7 linked regions of the Homo sapiens genome follow. The protein of the gene in region 1 purifies or fractionates together with the protein of each later gene. This does not show direct contact. Each region holds a gene or a part of one and is shown in the gene's direction. Other genes may lie near its edges.

Evidence for each region.
Region 2: the proteins of BTN2A1 (region 1) and PLCB1 purify together in Homo sapiens (affinity purification with mass spectrometry; 3 studies listed by BioGRID and IntAct, with this or other methods). This does not show direct contact.
Region 3: the proteins of BTN2A1 (region 1) and RAB3GAP1 purify together in Homo sapiens (affinity purification with mass spectrometry; 3 studies listed by BioGRID and IntAct, with this or other methods). This does not show direct contact.
Region 4: the proteins of BTN2A1 (region 1) and SLC25A14 purify together in Homo sapiens (affinity purification with mass spectrometry; 2 studies listed by BioGRID and IntAct, with this or other methods). This does not show direct contact.
Region 5: the proteins of BTN2A1 (region 1) and PDZD8 purify together in Homo sapiens (affinity purification with mass spectrometry; 3 studies listed by BioGRID and IntAct, with this or other methods). This does not show direct contact.
Region 6: the proteins of BTN2A1 (region 1) and FMN2 purify together in Homo sapiens (affinity purification with mass spectrometry; 3 studies listed by BioGRID and IntAct, with this or other methods). This does not show direct contact.
Region 7: the proteins of BTN2A1 (region 1) and SGPL1 purify together in Homo sapiens (affinity purification with mass spectrometry; 3 studies listed by BioGRID and IntAct, with this or other methods). This does not show direct contact.

The regions. Positions count from the first base shown.
Region 1 is NC_000006.12:26,460,955-26,464,454, forward strand, and holds part of BTN2A1 (butyrophilin subfamily 2 member A1 isoform 1 precursor), read left to right. Parts: intron 1-2,289; coding exon 2,290-2,571; intron 2,572-3,500.
Region 2 is NC_000020.11:8,730,266-8,733,765, forward strand, and holds part of PLCB1 (1-phosphatidylinositol 4,5-bisphosphate phosphodiesterase beta-1), read left to right. Parts: intron 1-2,972; coding exon 2,973-3,127; intron 3,128-3,500.
Region 3 is NC_000002.12:135,160,292-135,163,791, forward strand, and holds part of RAB3GAP1 (rab3 GTPase-activating protein catalytic subunit), read left to right. Parts: intron 1-2,263; coding exon 2,264-2,360; intron 2,361-2,456; coding exon 2,457-2,560; intron 2,561-2,694; coding exon 2,695-2,810; intron 2,811-3,500. UniProt on the Homo sapiens protein: Catalytic subunit of the Rab3 GTPase-activating (Rab3GAP) complex composed of RAB3GAP1 and RAB3GAP2, which has GTPase-activating protein (GAP) activity towards various Rab3 subfamily members (RAB3A, RAB3B, RAB3C and RAB3D), RAB5A and RAB43, and guanine nucleotide exchange factor (GEF) activity towards RAB18.
Region 4 is NC_000023.11:130,370,919-130,373,857, forward strand, and holds the end of SLC25A14 (brain mitochondrial carrier protein 1 isoform 1 precursor), read left to right. Parts: intron 1-645; coding exon 646-726; intron 727-1,990; coding exon 1,991-2,032; 3' UTR 2,033-2,439; downstream 2,440-2,939. UniProt on the Homo sapiens protein: Transports inorganic anions (sulfate, sulfite, thiosulfate and phosphate) and, to a lesser extent, a variety of dicarboxylates (e.g. malonate, malate and citramalate) and, even more so, aspartate and glutamate and tricarboxylates.
Region 5 is NC_000010.11:117,276,774-117,279,107, reverse strand, and holds the end of PDZD8 (PDZ domain-containing protein 8), read left to right. Parts: 3' UTR 1-1,834; downstream 1,835-2,334. Other genes in the region: SLC18A2 (synaptic vesicular amine transporter), read right to left, coding at 1,842-1,946. UniProt on the Homo sapiens protein: Molecular tethering protein that connects endoplasmic reticulum and mitochondria membranes. PDZD8-dependent endoplasmic reticulum-mitochondria membrane tethering is essential for endoplasmic reticulum-mitochondria Ca(2+) transfer.
Region 6 is NC_000001.11:240,472,883-240,475,687, forward strand, and holds the end of FMN2 (formin-2), read left to right. Parts: intron 1-1,245; coding exon 1,246-1,272; 3' UTR 1,273-2,305; downstream 2,306-2,805. UniProt on the Homo sapiens protein: Actin-binding protein that is involved in actin cytoskeleton assembly and reorganization. Acts as an actin nucleation factor and promotes assembly of actin filaments together with SPIRE1 and SPIRE2.
Region 7 is NC_000010.11:70,871,448-70,874,947, forward strand, and holds part of SGPL1 (sphingosine-1-phosphate lyase 1), read left to right. Parts: intron 1-389; coding exon 390-539; intron 540-1,903; coding exon 1,904-2,142; intron 2,143-3,500. UniProt on the Homo sapiens protein: Cleaves phosphorylated sphingoid bases (PSBs), such as sphingosine-1-phosphate, into fatty aldehydes and phosphoethanolamine. Elevates stress-induced ceramide production and apoptosis.

The DNA.
Region 1 (3,500 bases):
GCCTTTAAGGTGCAGGATAATCTGTGGTGGCATTTCACTCCATCAGACCAGACAGAGGAGGTGAGGACTAGGGAATTGGGTCTTTCCCTGGGGGCCTCAAATCATAACAGGTAGGAGACCCCATCTTTGCTACACACAAAGGCAACCTTGCATCTGATTAAAGCAGAATATCATGGAAGGAGGGTTTCTTGACCCTGCATCATGACTGTGTTCATAGCAGCACTCCAGGGTTGACCAGTTATGGTTTCTGCGCGGCAGGAATCTGCCATTCTTTGCCTATAAAACTGACAGTGGCCTGGCCTTTCCCACTCTGAATTGGATTGCTTAGGACTTTTTGTTTGTTTGTTCATTGTATTCTCTTTGTTAGGTTGGTTGGTGGCTGATTTTGCCCTTAAATCTATTTTGTCATGCTTGCCTGTATTGAACCTCATAGAATGTTTTGAAGAATTTCGTTTTCCAATTTGCTGAGTTATTTTAATTCTTATTCCACTGAGCCTTTAAATGTACAAGTAGTTTTATCTCTTGATAAAAATTAAAGTGACCCTGGGCCGAGTGCAGTGATTCATGCCTGTAATCCTAGCATTTTGGGAGGCCAAGGCGGGTGGGTCATCCGAGGTCAGGCGCTGGAGACCAGCCTGGCCAACATGGTGAAACCCTGTCTTTACTAAAATTACAAAAAGTATCCAGGCATGGTGGCACATGCCTGTAGTCCCAGCTACTTGGGAGGCTGAGGCCAGAGAATCACTTGAATTCAGGTGGCCTAGGTTGCAATGAGCTGAGATCCTACCATTTCACTCTAGCCTGGGCTACAGAGCAAGACTCTGTCTAAAAAATAAATCAATAAATAAATAAATAAATAAAAATAAGCCTGGGCAACATGGCAAAATCCAGTCTCTACAAAAAGATACAAAAAAAAAGTAGCTGGGCATGGTGGCACATGCCTGTAGTCTCAGCTACTTGGGAGGCTGAGGTGGGAGGATCACCTGACCCTCAGAAATCGAGGATGCAGTGAGCCATGATCATGCTTCTGCATTCCAGCCCAGGCGATAGAGTGAGACTGTGTCAAAAAAAAAAATTTTTTTTTATTAAATTGAGCCAAAGCACCAGACTTAAGTTATTGATTTAATTTCCTGTCTTTGGTAAAATTCTTTGGGAGACTTTACAAAGGAATTACTCAGAAGAAGTTTAGATGGTCACACATGGCTGAAAGGTCTCCCAGGACCACGCTTTTGCAGCTCTTTCATACCTGGTGTTCACTCTTATGGAAGATTCATTTAAAGATGGATTGTAGTTAGGGTGAGTCTAGTTTCTTAGGATTTTTGGTGATGATCTCTGATATTGAAAAAGTGGTATGGTTATCTTAGTCCCTGGATCATCCAGATCTTTCTAATAAGTTGATGTTCTCCAAGTACTATAAGAAAATCACCCAGCCTGGGCAACATGTTAGCCAAGAATGGTGGAAAATGCCTGTAATCCTAGCTAGTTGGGAGACTGAAGCAGGAGGATCTCTTGAGCCCAGGAGTACAAGGCACAGTGAGCTATGATTTTGCCACTGCACTCCAACCTGGACAGCAGAGCTAAAACCCTGTCCCTAAAACAACAAAAGCAATACTGCCTAATGGATGGAGCCTCTGGGAGGTAAACAGTGTGAATTAGGATTAGAGTTGGATTTGCAGGCTAGATCTGTCAAGTCTCCTAAAAACCATCACCTCCTATGGGTGGTAGAAAGCGGTGGTTATGTGAAGTTCTGAACTAGACAGAAGGGTCAATGTCTTTGGATCAAAAGGTTTCTTAGGATTCTGCCCGCCTGGCAGACTTTCGTCCTTCTCGTTATTATTCTAGAGCTTCTGGAAGCTGAGGTCTACTGAGAAGTCGTCCCAGAAGCAGAAAGTGAAATCCAAAACCTGCCTGTTTGAAGTTGGAGTCGACACACCCATCTCAAAGTGAGAAAATTAGTCTGGCAGGATAAATTGAACAAGCATTTATGGCAGACAGATAGATGCTTGGTGCTGTGATGGGGCCTATAGGTGGACCGCAAAGAAAAGGGTGCAATGGGATCCTTTCCTCTTAGAGAGCTCACAGTTTATGTGGCCCATTGGCCTGCTGGTGTTCTCCAACATCAATGTTCTTTCTTCCTTACCCTCATCCTTTTTTTCTTCCTTCCTATTTCTTGTTTCCTATCTCCCTCTTTTTTACCTTTACTTTCTAGCTTCACAGAAGAGATGCAATAGGCACAGAAGAGATGCAAAAGGCACTGACTTTTGCCTGAACCCTGATATCTCTCCACAGGACTAGGCTCTAAGCCCCTCATTTCAATGAGGGGCCATGAAGACGGGGGCATCCGGCTGGAGTGCATATCTAGAGGGTGGTACCCAAAGCCCCTCACAGTGTGGAGGGACCCCTACGGTGGGGTTGCGCCTGCCCTGAAAGAGGTCTCCATGCCTGATGCAGACGGCCTCTTCATGGTCACCACGGCTGTGATCATCAGAGACAAGTCTGTGAGGAACATGTCCTGCTCTATCAACAACACCCTGCTCGGCCAGAAGAAAGAAAGTGTCATTTTTATTCCAGGTTAGTTCTCTGCCCTCTGAGACTCGTCGAGTGCATGGGGGATCCTCAGCACACAGATGGAGCCCAGAACGGGGATGGGGGCAGCAGTGTGGGTGAAATAGTCCTGGGCCCTAAGGACCTGGAGGCTGCAGCTGAGTGAAGCCTTTCCGCTTCTCACAAAAGGAGAATCAAAGTGTCCCAAAACTCAGGAGTAGGAGCCTCTTCTCTGAGGGTAAACCTGTTTTTGTTGTTGTTGTTGTTGTTGTTGTTGTTTTTCCCCCCAATAAGGTCCTTACACTGCTGCAATTTTTTTTTAAGACAAGTTCTTGCTCTGTCACACAGGCTAGCATGCAGTGGCACAATCTTGGCTCACTGCAACCTCCTCCTCCCAGGTTCAAGCAATTCTCATACCTCAGCCTCCCGAAGGCTAGGACTACAGGCACACGCCACCACACCCGGCTAATTTTTGTATTTTTAGTAGAGATGGGGATTTCACCTTGTTGACCAGGCTGTTCTCGAACTCCTGACCTCAAGTGATCCACCTGCCTCAGCCTTCCAAAGTGCTAGGATTACAGGCGTGAGCCACCATACCCGGCCAGCAATTTTTAGACATTGAAAACAACCATAACATATGGAGGGTGGTGTGGATAAGTGACTCTCTACACTTGGTGTTCCTGTATGCTGTAGCCATCCCTTCCTGTGCAGGGGATTTTCCACAGGACAGAGCTGTGGAAATTCCCTATAGACACACACTCACAATTCATTCAACAAATGGTCAAGAAGCATATCGTATGTTCAAAACACTGTTCTACCAAGGGTAAATCATTGAACAAATTATATTAAGAACTCTTCCCTCAAAAAGTGATTAGTTAGCTAACCATATATTCTATCAGATGGTAATGAACATCTATAGGAAACATTAAGCAAGGAAGGAATAAAGAGGCAATGTG
Region 2 (3,500 bases), on another chromosome or scaffold:
ATTTAACCTTTTCAACCATCAAAATTTAATTTTGGTCCATAGTCTCAGTGAGATCAATCCTTTTTTTTCATCCTAAACAATCATCCCACTGAACTGGAATTACACGTTAATAGATACAGCCTTTTTCATTGTTGTTGTTAATTCAGACCCATTTTTTCACTTTGTATCTTTTCCATTAATAAATTTGTCTGCCTTCCTGGATGCAATAACTCACTGTTTTTACTGTATTTTATAATATGGATTAATACCTGGAAGTGGTGATTCTCCTTTACTACTATTAATTTTCAATTCCTTTTTTGCCATTGCCAGTGGAATTCTTATTTCAAATAAACTTAATTTAACTGTATTATGTTTTCCTTGACTACTAAAAAAAAACTATTTTTAAAATCATATTAACTTTATAAATTTATCTGACAAAAACTGACACCTTTTTAATTTTTAGTTTTTCTGTCACAGGAAAAATGCTTTTCTCTTTACTTTAAAATTTTTTGTATTAAGTCCTCAGCAAAATCACTTGTCTTCATTAGAGGTCTAGTTTTCTTAGACTGAATCTTTCTTTTTATTTATATTATATTTTTAACAGATTGTTTCTGGATATTTATATTTGTATATTTGTTTATTTTATAAATGATTGTATTTTACAAATGATCATCTTTCTAAACTCTTATAATAGCCTATTTTTTGCAGTACATTCCGTTGGAATTTTTAGACACACAAAGACAGTAATTTAATCATATCTCATTTCTCCACCTGCCTTATTTATTGCTTTGGCCTTACCGTTCTCAGGTATTAAATGAGGGTTCCGAGTGGGCATCTTTCTTTTTTATTCAGTAGGAAGTTCAACATTATGCCTTTTATTAAGTATCTATCAAGCTCTAAGCCACGATTAAGAGTAATTTGCTAGATATTTATGGCTTTTTAAAATCAATTAATTTATTTTTATTGATACATAATAGCTGTACAAACGTTTGCAGTACGTATGATAATTTAATACATTTATATAATCAAATCAGAGTAATTGGGATATCCATCACCTGAAATATTTATCTTTACATTAGAAACAATCGAATTGCTGTCTTCTAGCTATTTTTAAATGTACAAACTATTAATGTTAACTATAGTCACCTCCTTGTCTATCAAACACCAGGTCTTAACGTCTTCTATCTAAGTGAAGAGTGGGCATCTTTCTCTTCATCCTGATCCTAATATAAGTTTCACTGTTGTGATATCATCAAGTCAGATATTGGCTGTGACTTTGAGTCAGATATTCTTTAACATACTAAAGGACACGGGTCCTATTTGACTAATGTTTTAGAAGTTGGTATTGAATGTTATTAAATGTCTCTTGGACATCCATTGGGATGATCATATGTTCATTTTTCAGACATAAATGTGATAAGTTATCTTAATAGATCTCATTTCCTAATATATAATTATCCTTTTGTTCCCAAAATAGGCTCTACTTATTTGTTGTGTATTATTTTTAGAACATATGACTTGCTAATGTAATTTTTAGGCTTTTGAAGCTAATTTTTTCAAGTGTCATAAATTCATTATTGTTTTGAAATTTTGTCCAATTTTGACATCATAGTTATGTTTATAAAATAATAGTTTAATAAGAGAAAATTTCACTGATTTTTTTCTGCTCTAAAAATGATTTGTTAAATGAAACTTTAGAATAATTCTGCCATCACCTCTTTATTATGCACATAGAGATGAGTCATGACACAGATAATCTGGAACTGTTGACAACTTCCCAGATTCTTTACAACTTTAATATGTATTCTTTCACTCTATCAGTTGCAATATGTGTGAACGTTCATCTGATGCACTGAGTCTGAGGAAAATTTTGACCAGTAACCTTTGTCCACTGGAAAAGAGTCTATGTAGAATTAGATGTTAATTGTAAGTAATCACAGAAGTGCAAATTATAAAAAAGAAATTTTTTGTACAAATTAAAAAGCAGGAAAAGGAATAATAGAATCCTCTTTTAATGAGGCATGGAGAAGTCCATTCTCAAAAACATGGCTTAGTAGTATAAGCTGGTTTAAGCTTTCTGAAGGGCATTTTAGCAAGGCATCAAAGAAAAATTTTCCAATGAGGACATCATTTGTCCCAGGAATTCCTCTCATAAGAAAATCACTGATCATGGCTTCAAAGATTTCACCACAATGATGTTTATCAAAACATTATAAGGGTGAAAAATTAGAAAAAACATAAATGTGCCCAAAAGGGGAATGGTTAAATACATTATATTCTAATATATTGTATTAGATATTATATTCTAATATATTGTATTAGATATTATATTCTAATATATTGTATTAGATAGTGTATCATATTAGAAATTAGATATTAGAATTAGAAATTAGAAATTAGATATTAGATATTGTATCATAATATTCTAATATATGCTTTATATATTAGAATGATATATTTAATATATCATTCTAATATATCTAATATATATTAGAATGATATATTTAATACATTAGATATTAGATATATTAGAATAATATAAATAATATATCTAATATATGTTAGATATTAGATATTTTGTATATACTATATTTATATATAATTATATATTATATATTAGATATATTATATTATATTAATATTTAACATATATTATACAAATATATTATTCTAATATATTTAATCAAAGGAATTTGAGACAGCTGTTATAATTAAGGCAGATACATATTAAATGAAATCAATATACTGTATGTCAACAATATATTTGAAGTGGAAAAGCAGACTGCACACCCACCAGTTGGCAGTGATTATTTCTGGACTTGGGGATTAGAGGTAATTTTTTTCTTATCTGTGTTTCCTGCATTTCTACAATGACTCTCTTCCAAGGGAATACAGTCACAAAAGTGGACTGGGATCAACTTTACTTTACAATCTTACTTTCTTACCCCAAGTATAGATAAACTCACAATAAGGCTTGTGTTTTTGATACTCAGACCTGGCTATGCAAATAAATATGGGGATGTATGAATACAACGGGAAGAGTGGCTACAGATTGAAGCCAGAGTTCATGAGGAGGCCTGACAAGCATTTTGATCCATTTACTGAAGGCATCGTAGATGGGATAGTGGCAAACACTTTGTCTGTTAAGGTAGGTATACCCCATCACAAAATTGTTCCTAACAATAGTGTTGAATTTATCTACATTGCATAAAGAAGTGGCTTAGTCATTAAAAATTTAGTAACTAGGAAAGATTCTACTTTCTTCCTACATTTTTTTTCTCTAAAGATCAAATACACATTAAAAGTTTTCGTAAGGGGTCCGTGTGTTCTCATTGTTCAATTCCCATCTATGAATGCACACGGGAAGGGGAACATCACACTCTGGGGACTGTTGTGGGGTGGGGGGAGCGGGGAGGGATAGCATTAGGAGATACACCTAATGCTAAATGACGAGTTAATGGGTGCAGCACACCAGCATGGCACATGTATACATATGTAACTAACCTGCACATTGTGCGCAT
Region 3 (3,500 bases), on another chromosome or scaffold:
TAGTTGAGATTAAAGAGCTATGATAACTAAAGGCAATGGATGATCCTTACCAAGACTTGTAGTGGTTGAGGGAAAGGGTCATAAAAGACACATTTTGCGGCCGGGCGCGGTGGCTCATGCCTGTAATCTCAGCACTTTGGGAGGTTGAGGTAGGTGGATAATTTGAGGTCAGGAGTTCGAGACCAGCCTGGCCAACATAGTGAAACTCCGTCTTTACTAAAAATACAAAAATTGGCCGGGCAGTAGTGGCCATGTGCCTGTAGTCTTAGCTACTCAGGAGGCTGAGGCAGGAGAATCGCTTGAGCCTGGGAGGCGGAGGTTGTGGGGAGCCAAGATCGCACCACTGCACTCCAGTCTGGGCCAACAGAGAAAGACCCTGTCTCAAAAAAAAAAAAAAAAAAAAAAAAAAGACACATATGGGATCAGTTGACAAAACTGCAATAAAGATAGTAGGTTAGATTACAATTATTTTTATCAGTGTTAAATTTATTGTATATAATCAGAATCATTTGCATTTTGATTATATAATAAAATATTTTTAATTTTAGGAAATACAGATATTTTGGGATAAGGGACATGAGTGTGCGACTTATTCTGAAATTATTCGAAACAAGTTTATGTCTATAGTATGTACACACATGAAAGCAGAGAAAGATGCAAGGGATCCAGAACAGAGGAGGGAGACAGGTCATACGTGAATCCAGGTAAAGGGGAATCACATATTTCACGTTATTCCTGCAAATTTGTTTTTCTGTGAATCAGGGGAAAACAAAATTCAGAAAGGTGGGTATTAGCAAGGATGTACAACAGAGGGAACTCATTACTCTAGATAAGAATGTAAATCTGTTGAAACACTTTGTAGGATAATTATGTTGTACATTTCCTAGTTCAATTGTTAGGTATATATCCTAAAGTAATTGCTGTACATGTCCCATTTGCACCAGGAAATATGTGCAATAATGTAATAGGAGCATCATTTGTAATAGCCAAAAACTGAGGAGCTATCCACTACTATTAGTGTAGGAACATTTTAATACAGCAGTGAAAATGAGTAAACTATAGCATATTGGAATGGTATACGAATATCAAAATACTGAATGAAAAAAAGCAAGTCACTGAGGGCTATAAACAGAAACACTCCATTAATATAAAGGTTAAAACTAGACAAAAGTAAACAATATATTATTTAAGGCTACATATGTGAAAAAAACCATAAAGAAAAGCAAAAGAATGATTTGTAGTTAATTCTGGGGATGGAGGGTACACAGGAGGACTTGGAAAAGCCTGGTAACATTCTGTTTCCTAAGCTGGTGTTTTCTTTAAACTATTTCTAATACTCTAGTATGTATATTTCTTAATTTAAAAAAAGTTTCAAATCAGACAAAACTCTCTAAGCCAAAAAAAAGTCCACCACAAGTCATTAAATAAAGCAAATAATAAAACAGTATGTAAGTTATTAATTTTTGTTAAGAAATTACATATGCATCTACATTTTTGTGTTTAAATGGACATACAAGTAGTTTGAGAGGATAAACACGAAAATGTGGTTTTGGGGAAGTAGGATTTCAGGAAAATTTCTGCATCACCTGTATTTTTTTTAAAATTTTGAAATCCATGAGCATTTATCAGTCAGACTCACATTATGAGATTATACTTCTTAAAATTTTTATTGATGTAAAAGAATTGTACATATTTATAGGGTTATACTTCTTTTATCTTTACTGTTGAATAAGGAGCCTAAAGGTAGGGTCCATGTTTTGTACATACTTCTCTGTATTCTTATAATAAGAATTGGAAAAAAAATAAACCAAAACAACTAAAACCAAAAAATGTGTGGGAAGTCACTAACAATGTTTAGAAATATTAAGTGAGAAAAGCAGGTTAAAAGGCAGTATTTTACATATTTAATATTAGTGCCCTTAGTACGTGTATTCTGCGTCTTAAAATGAAAATGCTCCACTGTCAATGGTTGTTTTCTCTTGGTATTGTAATCAGTCGGTAGTTTTTATTTTCTTTGTATTTTCCTTATTTGTGTGTATTACATAAGAAAGCAGAAAAAAATAGAATATTTATAATTATTAAAGATTGAAGTTCTTAGGTGCTTTCAGTAACATTATCCTCACCTTTGGGGTCGTGGCTGCCTATCTGGAGTGCTGTCTTGTTAAGGATTAAGATGAGTGGCTGAGGATTTGCACTTCTGTAAGTGGCTGCTTCATCCTTTGACACCTGCGCTGATCATTTGTGTGCGCTGCACCTCCTTCAGGTGCTGCACTATCTGGCAATCCAGAAACCTGCAGACCTTGCTCGGCACCTGTTACCTTGTGTGATTCATGCAGCTGTACTCAAGGTAAAGGAAGAAGGTAAATGTCATATTTAACTAGTCATTAGTCATTTCCAAAGTGAAAGTATATTTTGCTTAATTTATTTAATGCTGGCTTCAATCTTTTCTAAAATAGAAAGTCTCGAAAACATTTCTTCAGTTAAGAAGATCATAAAGCAGATAATATCCCATTCCAGTAAAGTTTTGCACTTCCCCAATCCAGAAGACAAGAAATTGGAAGTAAGTTTGATGTAGTGTCAGAATCTTGCCAAGTGTTCTCCTCAGTTGGCAAAAATAATTTTTAAGATGCGTTTTCAAAGGGCTTTGCTTTTTTGCCATCTCGCAATGTATGCCTCTTCCTTTTCTACCGCCAGGAAATCATTCACCAGATTACTAATGTGGAAGCTCTCATTGCCAGAGCTCGGTCACTAAAAGCCAAGTTTGGAACTGAGAAATGTGAACAGGAGGAGGAAAAGGAAGATCTTGAAAGGTAATTGCTATTTGGCTAATTCAGTTTTGTCTGCAGTAGGAAAAGCCACCACTCTCTTAAGAAAAATTGTAATAGGATATTAAGACTCTTTTGTGGTAATCATATATTATTTGAAACAAGCATTGTCTAGAGACAGAAATAATTATCATAGCATTTGACCTCTCCCGTATTTCTGAGTCTCTACCAGGTGTTTCCATTCTTCCCACTTTTAGAAACAGTCTCCCAGAGCCTCCTTTTCTAGGGATTCCTTGGTTTGCTCTTGGAGATGTGGTGTCTGGAATTTCTTGTGGAGGAGCTGTTAACTGTGTTGCTCACCCTGCCCCAAAACTTTGTTTTCAGCTGTTACTATTCCTTGACCACAGGGTGCAGGTGCTGAAACCATTTCTGCTTACTGTTCCTAGTTGTTTATTTTAAACAAGATTTGTGATAGCAAAGGTGCACATCCTATGTGCCTTGCGATTATGTTTTGAAAGATTGACCAGATGGCTTTTCTCAGATGAAGCAAATGATTGGGGCATTCTCTTTATGAGACTCGGCACCATTACCAATGGAGCTTAGATCAGTGTGAGGCCCTGTTCATTTTTTGCCCATGTTATTTGGAAGGACAATATTGTTTTAATGTGTGATAAAGTGTTCACAAATTAGCTTGTTCAGTGGCTTAAATTTGTCATCATTTAAAAATTTTCATTA
Region 4 (2,939 bases), on another chromosome or scaffold:
TTAGCTGAGTTGATTCTGGCTTAGGCTGTCTCCTGAGGTTGTAGTTCATATGGCAACTAGGGTTGCTGCCATCTAAAGCCTTGACAGGCTGGGATAGCTGCTTCAGTGATCACTCATGCAGTTGTTGGCTGGAGCCCTCAGTTCCTCACCATGTAGTCCTCTCTTCATGATATAGCAGATGGTTTCCTCTAGAGTGAATGAATCCAAGAGAGAATAAGGCAGATGCTTTATTATATATAAAATATATTTTATAACCTAGCTATGGAAGTGACATATGTTCACTACTACCATATTCTGTTGGTGACACAGACCAAATACTATGGGGTGGAGGCTACGCAAGGGTACAAATAACTGGAGGTAGGGTTCATTGGGGGCCATCTTGGAGGCTGGCTACCATAGACACTTTTTCTGTCTTGTTTATTAGTATATTCTCAACATCAAGAATGGTGCTTTGCATATGTATGGTAGGTAAATATTTATTGATTAAGTGGGTGGATGGATTTAGACTACAGATGAATTTAAAATGGACCTTTAGAGAAAAGACTATTCATGGAGCCATAAGTTGCCCTGGGGTGGGAGTGGAAGGTGATGTCAAATGTAGAGAAAGGTGAATTCACTCTGTTTTTGGTTATATCTTTCCTGCAGATGTGGAAACATGAGGGCTTTTTTGCACTCTATAAAGGATTTTGGCCAAACTGGCTTCGGCTTGGACCCTGGAACATCATTGTATCCTTTGAGAGAATGAAAGCAAGTGCTTCAAGCTCCCAGATAATTCTAGGCTATGGGAAGGAAAATTTGATTATTAAAGCCTTTTAGGCTAGTGAGAAACTCAAGCATCCCATTGGTGACCCTTGAGAATCAAATTAAGCAAAGAAACAGCTTTCAGTTGGAGGCTAATACAAACTAAAAGGGATAGAAAAGATATGTCAAACTTTACTCTTTAAAACAAAATGACAACAAACACAGCTAATCTGGAAGGGGCTATGAAGTTTTTAGAAACCCTGATGGACGAAGCCTACAGGAAAGTCCATGCTGAGGTGGTTCAGATTTCCTACCCCTAACTATAGGACCAAAATAGCTGGGAAATAAAAACAGGACAGAAGACATTCATGGGGTGAAGGAATCCACAGCCAAGCAGGCTTCTTTCTTCATGGGTGAATCTGTCTCCTCCAGTTGTGTTTGAGTGCCTCCTAAGTGCAGAGCCATGTATTGGATACTGTGTGTGGTGTTGTGTGTATAATGGTAAGCACCGCAGGGTTGGAAAGTAATTCTCTGCCCTTGTGGGGTCTGTAGACAGAGAGAGGGTATCTCGTTCCCTCTTGGAATCACTCTGATCATCTAATTAATTATATGTCGTCACTGATGTTCTTGGTTACTGTGTGTGTGTGCGTGTGTGCGTTTGTCCTGTTTCCCCCTGAAGACTATAAATATATTAGAGTTTTACTCTGTTTATGTTGTTCGATGCCAGTGATCTGAATGGGCACATGGTAGGCACTCAATGCATGCTTGATTTGACAGGTGGTGTTTTATTTATTTATTTATTTATTTTTATTTTTTTTTTTGAGATGGAGTCTTGCTCTCTCGCCCAGGCTGGAGTGCAGTGGCGCGATCTCGGCTCACTGCAAACTCCACCTCCTGAGTTCACGCCATTCTCCTGCCTCAGCCTCCCGAGTAGCTGGGACTACAGGCACCCGCCACCACACCCGGCTAATTTTTTGTATTTTTAGTAGAGACAGGGTTTCACCATGTCAGCCAGGATGGTCTCGATCTCCTGACCTCGTGATCCACCCACCTCGGCCTCTCAAAGTGCTGGGATTACAGGCGTGAGCCACCGCGCCCGGCTGTCAGGTGGTGTTTTAGAAAAGATTTTAAAGCAGATGCAGCTTGGAATAGCATAGACTACCTTAATTTAAGAGAATGCGATGCTAATTTTAGAACTAGCTTTGGCTTTCGATATCAACCTGGTGATCTTCCTTGACTTACTCCTCAGTTTTTTATTACATACGAGCAGCTAAAGAGGCTTCAAATCTAAGAACTGAATTATATGTGAGCCCAGCCCTGCCAGCCTTTCTACTCCTTTGCCCTTTTCCCGTGTTCTAATGTATTTTGACAATGTTGTAAGTGTTTACCAAGCCGTTGGTCTCCTAAGGGCCTCCTGATGGAAGAACAGTGGGGTGGTTCAAAGTTATTTCTATGTTTGTGTTACCATGTTAACTTTTCCCCGAGAGAAAGTGTTAACATTGAGACTCTGGCCCCAGATTGGTATCTTCTATGAAGATGGATACTGATGGGTGACATTGAAAACGGCCTGCTTTCCAAATGTGGTTAAATGTAATTGGTTAGCCCCAGACTTGGGCTAGAGCAGAAGGCATAGGCCAGGGTGGTTATTGCTATATGTGTTACAGACCTCGGTTCTCATTAAAGTATTTATTGGCAGAATCACTTTGGCTTTGTCTTCATTTACTATTTTCTCCTTTGCCAACTCTTGAAGTTACATTCTCCAGAGAATAATAAAGGAAGATAACTATGAAATTGAGACTGGACTCTTAAAGTGCACTTTTATGAGACGAGAATGAGTGCATTGTGCTTTCCCACTGCCATTCATTGTCATAATGCCACTGCTAAACGTTGGGCAGGTGGTTCTTTCTTAAACATGAATAAACAAGCAAGTGGCTCATTTGGAAGTTCCTACAGGTAAAAAGCTAAAAAAAGGCTTAAAATAGAAGCCTGTTCCCAGGGTTCTAATCATCTTACAGGTACAAAGTTCTGGCTACTTTTTTTGTACTGAAACAGAGCCCGGCTCATTGTAGGCACTCAAATATTTGTGGAATTAATAGTTCTTCATCTTTATCCATTCATTAATTTGTTCAACATTTATTATGTATCTATTATGTCTAGGACTATAAAATGACTAAGACATAGTGTCTGTTTTCAAGCTC
Region 5 (2,334 bases), on another chromosome or scaffold:
ATCTTATCCCGAGGGACCAACAGCAGGCATACCTTTGCCAGGCCTTCTTGCAGAAAGACACAGAGCCGTAAAGGCAAAAATAAAATTGCAATAAAGTATATGGTATTGGGGGCAGGGAGAACCAGAAACCCTCAAAGAGAACCAATTTGTAGCACGTTCTTTTTTAAGGCTCTACCCCTGTAGAAGTAAGAAACTAGCCTGCCTTTTTAGCCATATGAGAGTTTCCTCCAGAGCCATCTTCCAAAGTGGCAGACTTGGCCAAGTTGCCCAATGCCAAATAAGTGAGTTGGAAGTTCGTTTGCTTCAAACACACTGCACTTAGAAACCAGACTTGAAATAATCGAAGCCCCACAGAAAAGCTTCATGAAACGAAGTGTTACTTTCCTAGAGAATAAGAAAGTCACAAGATTGAGGAGTCTGTTCTAAAGTTCTTTGCTCCTTGATGTCGAAGTTAACACAAACACAATCTTAGCTTAACGAAACTAAGTAATTTTTGTTTATGATTATAGAACTGCAGGATTCACAAGTAGTATTAGAGACATTCCACACTGCACACTCCAGTCATATCTCTTAACAAAATGACATAAATTGACAATGTTCACTAACAGTATTTGCTGTTACACTGAAAAGGCACATCAATGTTGTCATGCTTAGAAAAATACACAACACTGCACACTGGATGATATAGTTAGCACATACATTTTTAGATGTTCCATTTTTCTTTTCTGCCTGATCACTATTATTTTTACTTCTTAATATATGATTCAAGACATAATTTCATTCTTCATTTTCATTTAAAATTTGTCTTCACATTGATGTGAACAACTTTCAGGAGTCTAAAAAATAGTAGTTTCAGACAACCTAAAATAAATATATTCCTAGAAAACACTTGGATGACCTGCAAACAGATCAAAGATATAGTCAGATATTAAAGTCAGAGCAGCTGTTTTCAGCTTCTTGTTTCCTTTTCTAAAACTTGAAGTAGATGGCGATTAACCTTATCATGTTTAAACAACCTTGACAGTATAAGGTACATGTACCCTCAATTTTCTTCATCCAGTAAGACAAGTATGCATCTTAAAGGGAAAGCTTTTAGTTCATAACAATATGTTTGGTTGCTTTTCTCTGCTTTCGGAACATTTACTGTTTTTCCTTTATTGGCTTTAGTGTTTGCTGCCAACCAGATAACATGTTAACATATAATTTACAACTCTCTCTAGGTAGGTGATTACATAGAAAACTAATGCCAGCTAAGATTTATGGATTCAAAAGATAACTGACACAAGTTCTTGTCCTCTACACTTGAGAGAACTAGCTGTTTAACGCATAAATATATTGATAGTAACTACAAGTTAAATAACATTCAGTGTCACTATATAACATGCTGTCTTACTTGATTCTGTTTTTCAGACTTCATTCTAGTTTCTCTTTGTTGGAAGAGTCTCAGAGATAATGTGTGCTTTAATTTTAAACACTCATTACCAATATGATTTTTGCCCAAATGTTTGTTAATGTAAGTTAAAAAATTATATTTGGTTTGGATTCAAATATTTATAGATTTACACAATACCTATTTCATCAAAATATATTGTATGATATTTAATAAAATTAAATACATAAAATAAAGTTTCAACACTATTTATACAAACCCCTAGAAAAGCTTCTTTTTCTTTATAAGGCTGTTGGCAATCGACCATAACCATGGAAAGGAAATAATAACCTTTGGTTTTACTCTTTCACCAGGGATGGATGGTATGACTAAGACAGTTCTGGATGAGTTGTGTCACTGGAAACACTGTTTTATACAATTAAACACTTTGATGATTTTTGAGGATCTCATCTCAGTCACTTTCAGATTCTTCATCTTCACCTATCGGATATGACTGGATATTATTCTGAGTGTACATTTTTGTTTTAATAGGGCAGTTGTGATCCATGAGAATAGCCTAAAAGAGAGCAAAGTGCAAGTATATTAACTTCTTGTTTCATAAAGATAAGATGGTTTTAACCTACTGTTTTTAAGGATTATTAGTTTGAAAACTATGTAGTATTACTTGCTATTAACCAGTCATTTGGAGCAATCGCCAGACGCCTGACCTAAAAGACCTGTAGTTCTACACTCTAAAAATTCCAGGCAATTGGAGACAGAAGTGGTCTCTGCAGTATTTTCATTATACCTGTCAGGGGCCATAAGTCCACTCTGGGAACTTATACTCTATGAAGCAAGGGACAGGCAGGTTAGGTTTGTTATACTTAGAATCTTGGAATTGGGGTATGGGGATCCTGGAGGTCACCCAGTCCAACTTCTGTTTACAGACGTCATTGTAGCAACAC
Region 6 (2,805 bases), on another chromosome or scaffold:
TGCAGTGAGCCAAGATTGCAACACTGCACTCCAGCCTGGCAACAGAGTGAGACTTTGTCTCAAAAAAAAAAAAAAAAAAATTAAGATAAATCTACTGAATCTACTGAGGGTGTGCATTTATGTGGATATGTGCATGTTGGCAGGGGCAGGGTGGGGAGACCATCTTTCACTTTCTTTGTTACACACAGATCACGGCAGAGGCTGTATTTGAGCCACGAGTGATCATTCTAATTGGATTAGATCCACTGGGATGTAAAGTTGGTGGGAAGCGCCAAGAGCAGTGTGACGCTTTGCCCAGGGTGCCCAGACCCCGTTTATATCCACAGATGGCTCGGCAGAGTTGGCTGCCGGAGAGTGGTCAGTCCAGAGACGGAGTTTAACAAGCTCATTTAAGTTTCCTGCTTGCCCACTCCCCGCTTTAAAACAAAATGCCAGGTTATCCACCCTGGGAGGGAAGGGCTTGGTTAAAATGACAAGGCTTTTCCTTGTGATACTGAGGATGTTTTGTTGACTGTTTTGAGGGATTATCACTTGGTACCACAGTGTAAGTAAATGTTTTAAATGAAAAGTTGAGTTAGGCCTTAGGATAGGACCATTCTAAATTGAATTAGTCTAATGTAGTCTAAAGGGAAAAGACATTAAAATAACCCAAATTGGGATATGATTAAATAGCCCTGTTTTTTTTTAAAAAGTTAGGAATTATATCTTCATTTAGAAGCAGTGGTGCCTTCAGTTTCTCTGTATCAAAATGATCTTATCTAATGATAACTACTACATGATAGTTCAGCTTATCTTCTGCTCCTGATGATTCAGTCTTATAACTGTATTGAATGTGGAGGAATAGTTACTTATTAGTGAACCTCAATCTTGCTATTATGAGTACAGAAGATAATTAGAGTACATTTACCATGAAGTGAAGCAGCCACTTCAGTTTTCATATTTATGTATTTGCATGTAGGATTGAGGATGAGAATGGAGAGTTTGACACCCTCTCATATTGGTTAGAAGTTAAATTTTTAAAACTTTTTTTTTTCTCAAAAGTATTTGGCGATTTGTCTTGATAAAAGTGCTCAAAGATAACACAGATCCCACTTATACTTTTTTCCTTTATGGACTGGTAGACCTTTAACCTTGTCCCACAGAATTTGATCCAAATGAAAAGGTCTTTTTTAGGCTACTCTAAATTCTTTCCATTTTTAAAAGTTCTTTCTAACTAAAACTTTTATCTGGTGTATTTGTTTTCAGAAAGCAAAGATAAGCATGAAAACTTGAACAATGAAAAGCAGAATGAAAATGAGTCATTGCAACGACTTTCACAAAATTCAGCTGACCTGAGAGTGGGAGGGAAACTACCGTCATTCTGCTCATGTTTCTTCTTGACCTCTTGCATAATCTTTTTGTTTTCTAGACAGTTCACTAATTGTTGAATTTTACTGTATATTCATATAAAAATGCAAACGTACTAGACCAGTGGAGAATTTGACACCTTTTCTTTTTGTAAAAGTTTATGGTATTATACCGATAGACCAAAACAGCATGTGTAAGAGGCAGTATCTGCACTAATTCTCAACATGCTAAACATTAACTACAATTCACTGTTGTGAGAATATTCCTCGTCACAGCAAAAACACTTTCCTTTCTACTGACAACCAGTCCTCCACATCACAGCATTTAGACATATGGGTAAAATGTTATTTCTAGTGAATTGTTTGTATCAGTTTCATGTCTAAGTATAAATTTTCTATTTTAAAATTTAAGAACCGTTTATAATCAGTGCTTTCCCAACTCTTGGGTTGCTCTCCATAACTATGTATTTGTGAAAGAAAATGGTCATTTTTTTTACTGAAGTCATATAATGACTTGGGTCAGCTCGTAATGCATTGTGATGGTTTTGTATGAGCTGGGTGTTTTTTTCCATTACTTTTAATGATCTTCGTTGCAAGTTATAGTTGTGGATAAAGGGGAGAATTTATTGCTCTTGCAAACCAATTATGGAAAGCAACTTAAGAAAACCAATGTTCTAAATCATAATTGTTTGTATTTATGTAAAGTATGGTCTCTTACTTTTTAGTTTGTAGTTTAAGTGCAAAGAAACAGTAGTGGTTTTTTTTCTATTGTTTTGTAGTCTTCCTGTCCCCTTCAGTCCCTCCAGTGTGTATATTACCATTCTCCAATGAAATAATAGGGCATTTAACAAAGATCGCTATGTGCAATACTGTATTTAGTGTTTCTATTTCAATTTTTCTAGGATGTTAATTTATATGAAAATAAAATGAATAATAAAAGAATAAAGATACTTGCAAAAGACAGCTGTCATATTTAACATGGGGTGGGGAATAAGAGAAGGAGGGAAAATAAGTTAGGCATGCTGCATATTCACCTGCACACACACACAAAAATGTGTGTACAGTTTCAGGGACTTAAGAACTTAAAGCCCATCAATGATACCTAAGTAAGAAATCCTGGTAAAATATTTATTCCTTTGTGGCTTGAACTAGGATCTCTTTCCTGATCTCCCAAAGATCTTCTGGTCATTTTCAATCAGATATCTCACCATGCCTTAAAATTCATTATGTGTAAATTCAAACTCAGCTTGTCATCTTTTCCCTCCATACCTGCTCATTCTTGTGTATTATCTATCTCAGTGAACAAAGCCACTATTCATTCAGAAACCCAAGTTCATCTTTTGACATATTACTTATCACAAATGCATACATTTGTCTCTGTCTTTTCTATTAAAGTCTTAGTTCAGAACCCTCATTAATTCCTTTATTAACCTACTCATTGTTCTCATCTTCCGAGATT
Region 7 (3,500 bases), on another chromosome or scaffold:
AAAGGGTGATATTCCACATGCTGCCCCTCAGCGCCTCCCTTTCCCTCACGCCTCATCCTGCAGTGACTGAGGCAGGACCTTTCCCTTGTGCGAGAGGCAGCCTAAATCAGAGCTCTACTCATTTCCTGCTTGATACCGCAGAGCGTTTGAGGTCATGCATATTTAAATATAAAATTGATACCATATTTCAGATGAATTATTTTGAAGGGAAAATACATTTGAAAGATAAATTTTGTTGGGAATGTTAAAAATAGCCATTTTTTAAAAACATGGGAGGCATAATACAAAATAGCCTTGTGTTTATAGCCCATCTTTCCACCCATGTCTTGCAGTTTTTATTATAGGGCTATAAAGGAAATTCTCTTATGTTCTTTGTTTTTTGGAACAAGCTGGCTGTCAAATACAAAATACCCCTTCATGTCGACGCTTGTCTGGGAGGCTTCCTCATCGTCTTTATGGAGAAAGCAGGATACCCACTGGAGCACCCATTTGATTTCCGGGTGAAAGGTGTAACCAGCATTTCAGCTGACACCCATAAGGTGAGCTAAGGAGGAGATCAAGTGTTACCAGTTGATTATTTTGACTATTATTGATAAAATAAATTGGTAGCTTCCCCGCAAAGTATAAAATTAACTATAGAATTCTCATCAGATGCTTGTTTTAAACTCTCTCTTTGCCGTCACCAGATCAGCTGGTTCAGGTGATGGGGTATAGTGGTAGAGGTGACAAGCAGTAGTGAAAATGAACCTGTTACCTTTATCTCAAATTGGCTAAGAGAATTTCTGTATCCACTGACTGTGTGTAACTAGAACATGCTAGTGTAGTGGCCCTTGTTAAAAAAGCTCCCTGAAGCCTTGAGCTGATTTGAGGTGGAGGGTAGAGGAGTGTGAGGGTTGGTAGTGGAGTTCCCATGCTGGTAGATAACATTAGAGCTGCTGTGCAACTGGGCTCCTGAGCGTACATGACGGGAAAATGTTGACGGAAGAGTCCTTTGGAAAATGGGAAGAACCTGTGTGCTCAGGAACATTCAGCATTTGAGATGGCCACGCCTGCCACCCTTGGTGGACTGAGACAAAGTCTAGATCAGTTGATAACGCTATTGAATATACATCCAGATGTGGAAGAAGTATTAGCAGCCTCAGGAATGTGTACCTTGTTTTGATTGCATTTTCAGAGCTTGTTTTAAACTCAAGTATATTAAAGACTTGTTTTTCAAAATCGGTGTGATCTGCAGCCGATTTTCAGTCAGCATCTGTTTTTTCCTTACCATCCAGATAGCTCCTGTGTCCTTTTCCCATAACCATCCATTTCTGGATGGTTCAGGTAATGAAATTAGTTCCACGTTAGTTTTAATAAGAGTTAATTAGGGGGTCAGATGTTCTATAAGGAAACCAGTTACATAGTTAATTTTAAAGCTGGATTAAGTAGCTTTTAGTTTCTGAGCACCATTATGTTCTCATAAGCATAATATTCTTAGTAATACTAAGCAAAAAAAGATGGGAAGGGGGTCAGATGGTGATTTTAACTTGAAGTGACAAATTCCATCCTTTCCTGGCTTCCATTGCAAACTTACCCTTGCTTTCATCCTGACATATGGTCTCCAGAGAAATATTTTAAATAAGGTAAACCACATGCTGGGCAAGAGAGGGAGTAAACCGATTAACTGGGCGCTGTTCTTCCCTGGGTCTCAGATTCCTCATTCCTAACAGAGAGAATTTAAACTCCATCCCTTAAGTTCCTACTATCCTTTAGCATTTTAAGTTTGAATCCTTAATGTGAGTGGGAAACATAACAGAGAAACTGAGAAATAAATAGGATTTCCTTTGCATGATGAGAGTTCTGGGACAAGGTCTGCCAGACAGAACTATACTCTCACTTTTCTTGTCTGCTACTTCTTCCACAGTATGGCTATGCCCCAAAAGGCTCATCATTGGTGTTGTATAGTGACAAGAAGTACAGGAACTATCAGTTCTTCGTCGATACAGATTGGCAGGGTGGCATCTATGCTTCCCCAACCATCGCAGGCTCACGGCCTGGTGGCATTAGCGCAGCCTGTTGGGCTGCCTTGATGCACTTCGGTGAGAACGGCTATGTTGAAGCTACCAAACAGATCATCAAAACTGCTCGCTTCCTCAAGTCAGAGTATGTGTGGAAGACTGGGGTTCTGCCTTGTCTATTGCTTTTTTGTCCTAGTAGGCTCAAGGCACCTGCCTGGCTAAGTATCCATAGCCCTAGCCCACCTGTTGTCTCCTGCGATATAGAGGGCTTAGGGCAGCAGCTTAGGGCTTAGGCCAGACCAGCTGGCCTGGGAGAAGAAGCTCCCTTTCTCTGCCCTGACTTTTGGAGGGTCTTTGAGACGGGGGCCTCATTTGTAGTTTATCTCATCTCTATGGATGTCTTAATAACTGGCAGCTCTTACCCTAAGGCTAATGTACAATTTAATGGTTAGGACAGTGATTCCCAAACTTGAGCATGCATTCTAATCACCTGAAGGACTTGTTAAAACACAGGTAGCTGGGCCCACCCCTAGAGTTTCTGATTCAGTGGAACTGGGATGGGCTCTAAAAATTTCCATTTCTGGAGATACTGATGCTACTGCTCCAGGAATCATACTTGAAGAATCATTGGAATAAGAAAATAATTGGAAATGGGCCAGAAGGAATGAGGAAAGGAGGGCAATGAAATCTTGGGTTAAGCCAAGGCCAGAACAGGCTGCATGCTTTGTCTAATGTATCTGTTAACATCTTATCTGCCCATCTCTCTATGTGTCACTTGGATTGGGGAGGCTCTTTAAGTATATTGAGGGGGAAGGAAAGCTGCCTGCAGGCATTTCTCATTTGAGAAAGATCCTTGGCCAGGCACGGTGGCTCCGGCCTGTAATCCCAGCACTTTGGGAGGCCAAGGCAAAAGGATCGCTTCAGCTCAGGAATTAAAGACCAACCGGAGCAACATAGTGAGACATTATCTCTACAACAAATTTAAAAATTAGCCATGAGGCCGGGCGCGGTGACTCATCCCTGTAATCCCAGCACTTTGGGAGGCTGAGGCGGGTGGATCACCTGAGGTCCAGAGTTCAAGACCAGCCTGACCAACAGGGAGAACCCCGTCTCTACTAAAAATACAAAATTAGCCGGGCGTGGTGGCGCATGCCTGTAATCCCAGCTACTCAGGAGGCTGAGGCAGGAGAATTGCTTGAACCCGGGAGGCAGAGGTTGCGGTGAGTTGAGATGGCACCATTGCACTCAAGCCTGGGCAACAAGAACGAAACTCCATCTCAAAAATAAAAAATAAATAAAAATAAAAATTAGCCACATGTGGTGGTGTGCACCTTTGGTCCCAGCTACACAGGAGGCTTAAGGCAAGAGGACTGCTTGAACAGCCCAGGAATTTGAGGTTACAGTGAGCTATGATCACACCACTGCACTCTAGCCTGGGTGACAGAGCAAGACCCTGTCTCAAATAAATAAGCAAACAAATAAATAAAAATTAGATATATATAA